Regions from separate parts of the Homo sapiens genome. Here region 2 is linked to region 1. A link means that fine-mapping ties the variant in region 1 to the expression of a gene that starts in the linked region. Tissue or cell type: whole blood. Region 1 holds a variant in brackets; the other region holds the start of a gene. All regions are shown on one strand. Distances are from middle to middle.

What was found. PIP is the estimated chance that this variant, and not a neighbour inherited with it, causes the effect.
Region 2: it holds the start of LY75, and the variant in region 1 is fine-mapped to the expression of LY75 in whole blood (INTERVAL, PIP above 0.99).

Annotation. Positions count from the first base shown.
Region 1 is chr2:159,405,307-159,407,993 of GRCh38, reverse strand. All of the region lies in intron 14 of BAZ2B (bromodomain adjacent to zinc finger domain 2B), which reads left to right. Among named protein-coding and RNA genes, the nearest start is that of WDSUB1, 120 kb to the right of the region's middle. The variant C/T (reference allele first, on the strand shown) is at 1,114.
Region 2 is chr2:159,903,397-159,906,083 of GRCh38, reverse strand. It overlaps LY75 (lymphocyte antigen 75), which reads left to right and starts at 1,328. Exons shown (of 35, transcript NM_002349.4): 1 at 1,328-1,495. The coding sequence starts at 1,402. LY75-CD302 (LY75-CD302 readthrough) reads left to right here and starts at 1,328. Exons shown (of 38, transcript NM_001198760.1): 1 at 1,328-1,495. The coding sequence starts at 1,402. RefSeq lists silencers at 1,126-1,367, 1,137-1,596 and enhancers at 1,777-1,856, 1,997-2,046, 2,267-2,316, 2,367-2,416.

The DNA of each region.
Region 1 (2,687 bases):
ATTTCAAGACAAAGTCAGGCCTCTATTGTAGAATTCAAAACTTTCAATTCTTAATGTTAAAGAAATATTTATCTGGCATTATTATAGATGAGAATAATATTCTTCACCCATATTATTATCAGAGGTTGCTGACCCTGAAGGTCAGTTTATAGGTTTTTATGTCCTAGAGTATTTAGTGAACAGGACATCTTTTTTGTGTGACCCAGAAATTTTTGATGATGCCTGTAACCTCCTAATATTGAAAATGGTTGGGACATTGGAGATAATACTTTATCATCATCTTCCATTTTATTTTTCATTAACACTTCCAGTTTACTAGATGAAATTCGACTTTTTTAATCTCTTCTCCTTTTTAAAAGTCTCAGTGATAGAAAACTGGCCATAGTGACCAACTTCACTTCAGCTGTTATGAGGACATATGGTTACGTTCTTAGCTAAAATCTTAAGGCATTTAAACTTTGCTTAAAGATTTTTAGAAATAGTGGCATATAGACTGTGGAGTCAGAAAGTCCTGGGGTTTCTTTGGGGGTTTTTTTGAGACAGAGTCTCACTGGAGTGCAGTGGTGCAATCTCAGCTCACTGCAACCTCTTCCTCCCGGGATCAAGCAGTTCTTCTGCTTCAACCTCCCAAGTAACTGGGATGACAGGTGCCCACCACCACGCCTGGCTAATTTTTGTATTTTTAGTAGGGGTGGGGGCTTCATATGTTGGCCAGGCTGGTCTCGAAGTCCTGACCTCAAGTGATCCACCTACCTCAGCCTCCCAAAGTGCTGGGATTACAGGCATGAGCCACTGTGCCCAGCCAGTTGTGGGTTTTTTTCTTGGCTATGCTATTTAACCTCTAGGAGCCTTAGTTATTTTTTGTGTAAGCGGGGCAATCATGTTGATCTTATTAAGTAGCTGTGAACATTAAACAAGGTGGTGTAAATTTAACACAACAGGCCGGGCACGCTGGCTCACGCCTGTAATCCCAGCACTTTGGGAGGCCGAGGCAGGTGAATCACGAGGTCAGGAGATCGAGACCATCCTGTCTAACACGGTGAAACCCCGTCTCTACTAAAAGTATAAAAAATTAGCTGGGCGTGGTGGCGGGCGCCTGTAGTCCCAGCTGCT[C/T]GGGAGGCTGAGGCAGGAGAATGGCGTAAACCTGGGAGGTGGAGCTTGCAGTGAGCCGAGATCACGCCACTGCACTCCAGCCTGGGAACAGAGCAAGACTCCGTTTCAAAAAAAAAGAAAAGAAAGAAAAAGAAAAATTTAACACAATAGTGCCTGCGATCAATAAATGGTGGAAATTTTTAGAGCTCAAGTGATTCACGTGTTAGCAATTATGTTCCTTGTCAATGAACATAATTTAGGTTTCTTTGTTCAGTGGCTACAAAATTTAAACAATGTATAATACAAAGTGATGCTTTCTAAAATGATTATATGAGTAATATTATATACCACTTTTAGAGTTTGAAGTATTCAGACCAAGTTTGCCAGCAGAAGAAAGCAAGGATATTACATGGTTTCTGTGTCTGTTACACCCTTTGCCACAGTAATGCTTGGTAACAACCACCAAACCTTAGTAGCACACAACACTGTCTTAATCACTTGTGCACATGGAATCAGCTGGAAATTAGCTAAGCAGCTTTGCTTATCTTGGCTGGGCTTGTTCACATTTGTAGGGTCAACTGCTCCCTGTGTCCCAATCTCCCAATAGCCTAGCCCCCAAATCATATCTTCAGTCTTGGGCAAAGCACAAGAACAAAAGCCGAAAGAATACAACTAAACTTTCAAGCTCTGTTTTCATCACAACTGCTAACATCCTCTTAGCCATGGAAAATCACATGGTTGAGTTCAGAATCAAGGGACGGGAAAATATATTCCACCTCTTGATGGGAATTGCTCCAAAGTCACATTACAAATGTCATGGATAAAAGGAGAAATGAAGAATTGGGGACATTAACTTTGTTCATCTACCCTAGTTTCATACATGTATCCTTGAAGATTATAAGAACTAGGTTGTCTTTAAAAGTCATTGAAATTCTGCTTTCTTTTTATTTAGGAGATTTAGTCCCTCTCCTTCATAAATGAAAATATCACTGGATTCAGGAACTTAACCATTATAGCTAATTGAAATACTAAGTTTGGGTGGGAGGGGACTTTGTATTTGTTTTAATTGAGAGTCTTTCTTTTTTTTTTATATGTTAAGACTGAAGCTACATTACAAGTCTTAAAATATTAGCAGCTATTTTCCCACTAAGTGGGGTTTACTTGAAATGTGAAAAAAAATGTACTTAAATAAGCCTCTCTGATAAAGATTAAAAGAAACCTCATTTTTATGTAGTCCTAGATATGGGATCATATTTGATGAAATAATTTGATTATTTCCATTGGAATGAACATTCAGTTTCCGTTGGAATGAACATGACGTTGTCTACCACACCACTCTTCTACTTGGTATCTGTCTGACCTTAGGCAATTTTCTTAAATATTATATCCTCGGCTGGGAGTGGTGGCTCACACCTGTAATCCCAGCACTTTGGGAGGCCGAGGCGGGGCAGATCATGAGGTCAGGAGATGGAGACCATCCTGGTCAACATGGTGAAACCCCATCTCTACTAAAAATACAAAAATTAGCTGGGTGTGGTGGCGCACGCCTGTAATCCCAGCTACTTGGGAGGCTGAGGCAGGAGAATCACTTGAAC
Region 2 (2,687 bases), 500 kb before region 1:
TCTAGCACGGGAGAAAGGTGAAGGCCAGGAGACTCAGCCAGTCAAGTCCTTCCAACTTCTGCCTGCTTTTATTCTAGCCATGCTGGCAGCTGATGAGATGGTGCCCACCCAGACTGAGGGCTGGTCCGCCTCTCCCAGTCCACTGTTAATCTCCTTGGCAACACCCTCACAGACACACCCAGGAACAATACTTTGCATTCGTTCATATCAATCGAGCTGACAATATTATCCATCACAGTGCCTCAGTCTCCCCAGTATTCAGGGGAGGGCAGAGATGTTGTCTTTTTGTCCTTCTGTTCCATGGCGTGCCCAGATCCTGTGATGGCAGGTGCTCACTATATCTATGGAACTGAAAGGCCAGACCCTGGGGAGAGGACAGAGCAGGTTTGGGAGCCAACTGTGAAACCTTGGCAGTGGGAGTCAGGAAGAGCAACCTAGGTCTTTGCATCCTCATGCAACAAGGATGGAGGCCACCTCAAGTACACATTATGTGCTCAGCAAAGACGAGATTTAAAAGTATAAAACATTCACATTTGAGCAACTTAGGTCATTAAGAATTTGGCCTCTTTATAATGATAGCAGTGTCCACAGGAAGAGAGTGAGTGGGACATGAAATTTCTGGTTCTGCATGCAGACTTCTACATTTCTACCAGCTAATTATTATTATCATTAAATTATTAAGCAAAGAGCTTACTCGCAAAGGTCAACTTTTTATAAAGCATAAGTCATCCTTGGAAGTGTCGTTTGGTCATTCTAGTAATTCTTGCTTTTAATTCTTTAACAACTATGGGTAGAACTGCAGTGTACCATTATTCCACCTTTGTTTGCACTGTCAAAATACCCAAGACGTTGCCAAGGACGACTGAATTCTTAGGCTTGGCCGCAGCCACCCACAGGGCAGGTGCTCACTTCCTCCTCCGGGGTAGAAGAGATCATGGGTCCCTTTCCAGTCCAGGCTGGAATGGAGAAGTCGTCCCTGACCACAGTGCGCCAGGCAGAGGCCAAGGTTCTAAACTGATAGAACCCACCCACCAGGGCGGTGCCAAGTCCCAGTAAGGGCCGCATCTCCCCAGCTTGGCTGATGAAGAGGCGGGGACCGAACCCTCCAGTGCAGGAGCCTGTCTGGTGCCTGGCTCTCCCACCGATCCGCACGTACCTCTTCCTCGCGGGTCCTACCCCACGCAGGTATCTAGCGCCCAGCCCTGTTCATTTCCCACACCTGGCCCGCTCCGCCCCGGGGCCGAGGAGACGCACGTCTGATTGGCCGAGGGCGGCGGGGGCGGGGCCGGGGCGCCCCCAGAGGCCTAGACAGAGGTGCGGGCGGGGCAGGCCGCGCTCAGCAGGCGGGGCGGGAGCCGCGTGCGCCCGAGGACCCGGCCGGAAGGCTTGCGCCAGCTCAGGATGAGGACAGGCTGGGCGACCCCTCGCCGCCCGGCGGGGCTCCTCATGCTGCTCTTCTGGTTCTTCGATCTCGCGGAGCCCTCTGGCCGCGCAGGTAACCGCGGGCACGCCAGCCCCGCAGTCCGCTGGGTGCCTCGACGCCACAGCTCTGCTGCCTTCCAGCCTGGGGCAGGGCTGCGCCCCTGGGGCAGGTCACGGCTGCTTTGCTGTTGGGGCGGGGGGGCTCTGGAGCCGGAAGAGTGAGTCGCAGGGGAGGTCTGGCAGAGGAAGCGCCCCAGTGCCCTCGGGGGCCCGGAGGAGGGCGCGGTGGATGTGGGAGGACAGGGCCCTTCTGGTGCAGAGGGGACGCGGTGCACCGTAGAGTAGGCGCACGGAGGCTTTTTTGGCCGGGTGCGCTGCTCCATCGTCGCCTCTCTTATATAATGTTGCTGGAGTATGGGGTTCCCCATCTGCCCTCTTGCGTCCCGTCCCTCCCGTTCTCGCTTTTCCTTCGGCCCTTGGTCACCTTGGCCACAGGGCCAAGAGGAGCCTCCACCCACAGCGCCAAGGATTCCCCACGATTCCCGGATTTCACTGCGCCTACGGTGCGCATCAGGAAGGAAGTCAGGTTAAATAAACCATCTCCTCCGAAAGTGACCAAGACCAAGAGTCAGCTATGATGCCCTCACCCACCGCCTAGAGCAACAAACCTTTCTTCTCATTGGTTTATCAGCTCCAAATGACCCCGCTCCCCCAAGGCTGACAGCCTCACGGTGAAGGGCAGGTCGCCTGCTTGGGGACCTGCTGCCTCTCACTGCGGAAGCAGGACCAGAAACAGACAGCCTTCATTGATGTTCAGGGTAGTGCCAGCCCCACCACACCACACCCCTTGGCAGCAACCGGTTGCTTTTACTTTCTCTTTTTGCCTGGGCGAGGGGTGTGCAGAGAACTTTGTTTCTTGGTTGGACTGCATCATGGGCACTCAATGGGCCACCCTCCACCGGCCACTTCTGTTATCGTGCCTGTATGAGGAAGGAAAAGATTGTCCAGGCAGTTTGAAAAACATTAAATTGTTGGTGGCTCTTATTTTCTTTGCAGCTAAGCTAAGTTACCATCTGGTTTAGACTTCCTTCGGAGAGCGATGGGAAGAGATTTCTCAGAGTGTGAATGGCATCATCCTATCTACAGCAAGGACCTGGAAATGAACCCTGCTCTGAGTCACACTTCTCTATTCTCCTTTGACCCTGTGTGCTAGGAACTACCAAAAGAATCCTTTAAAATAAGATCCTTTATTGCCTTGATAATTT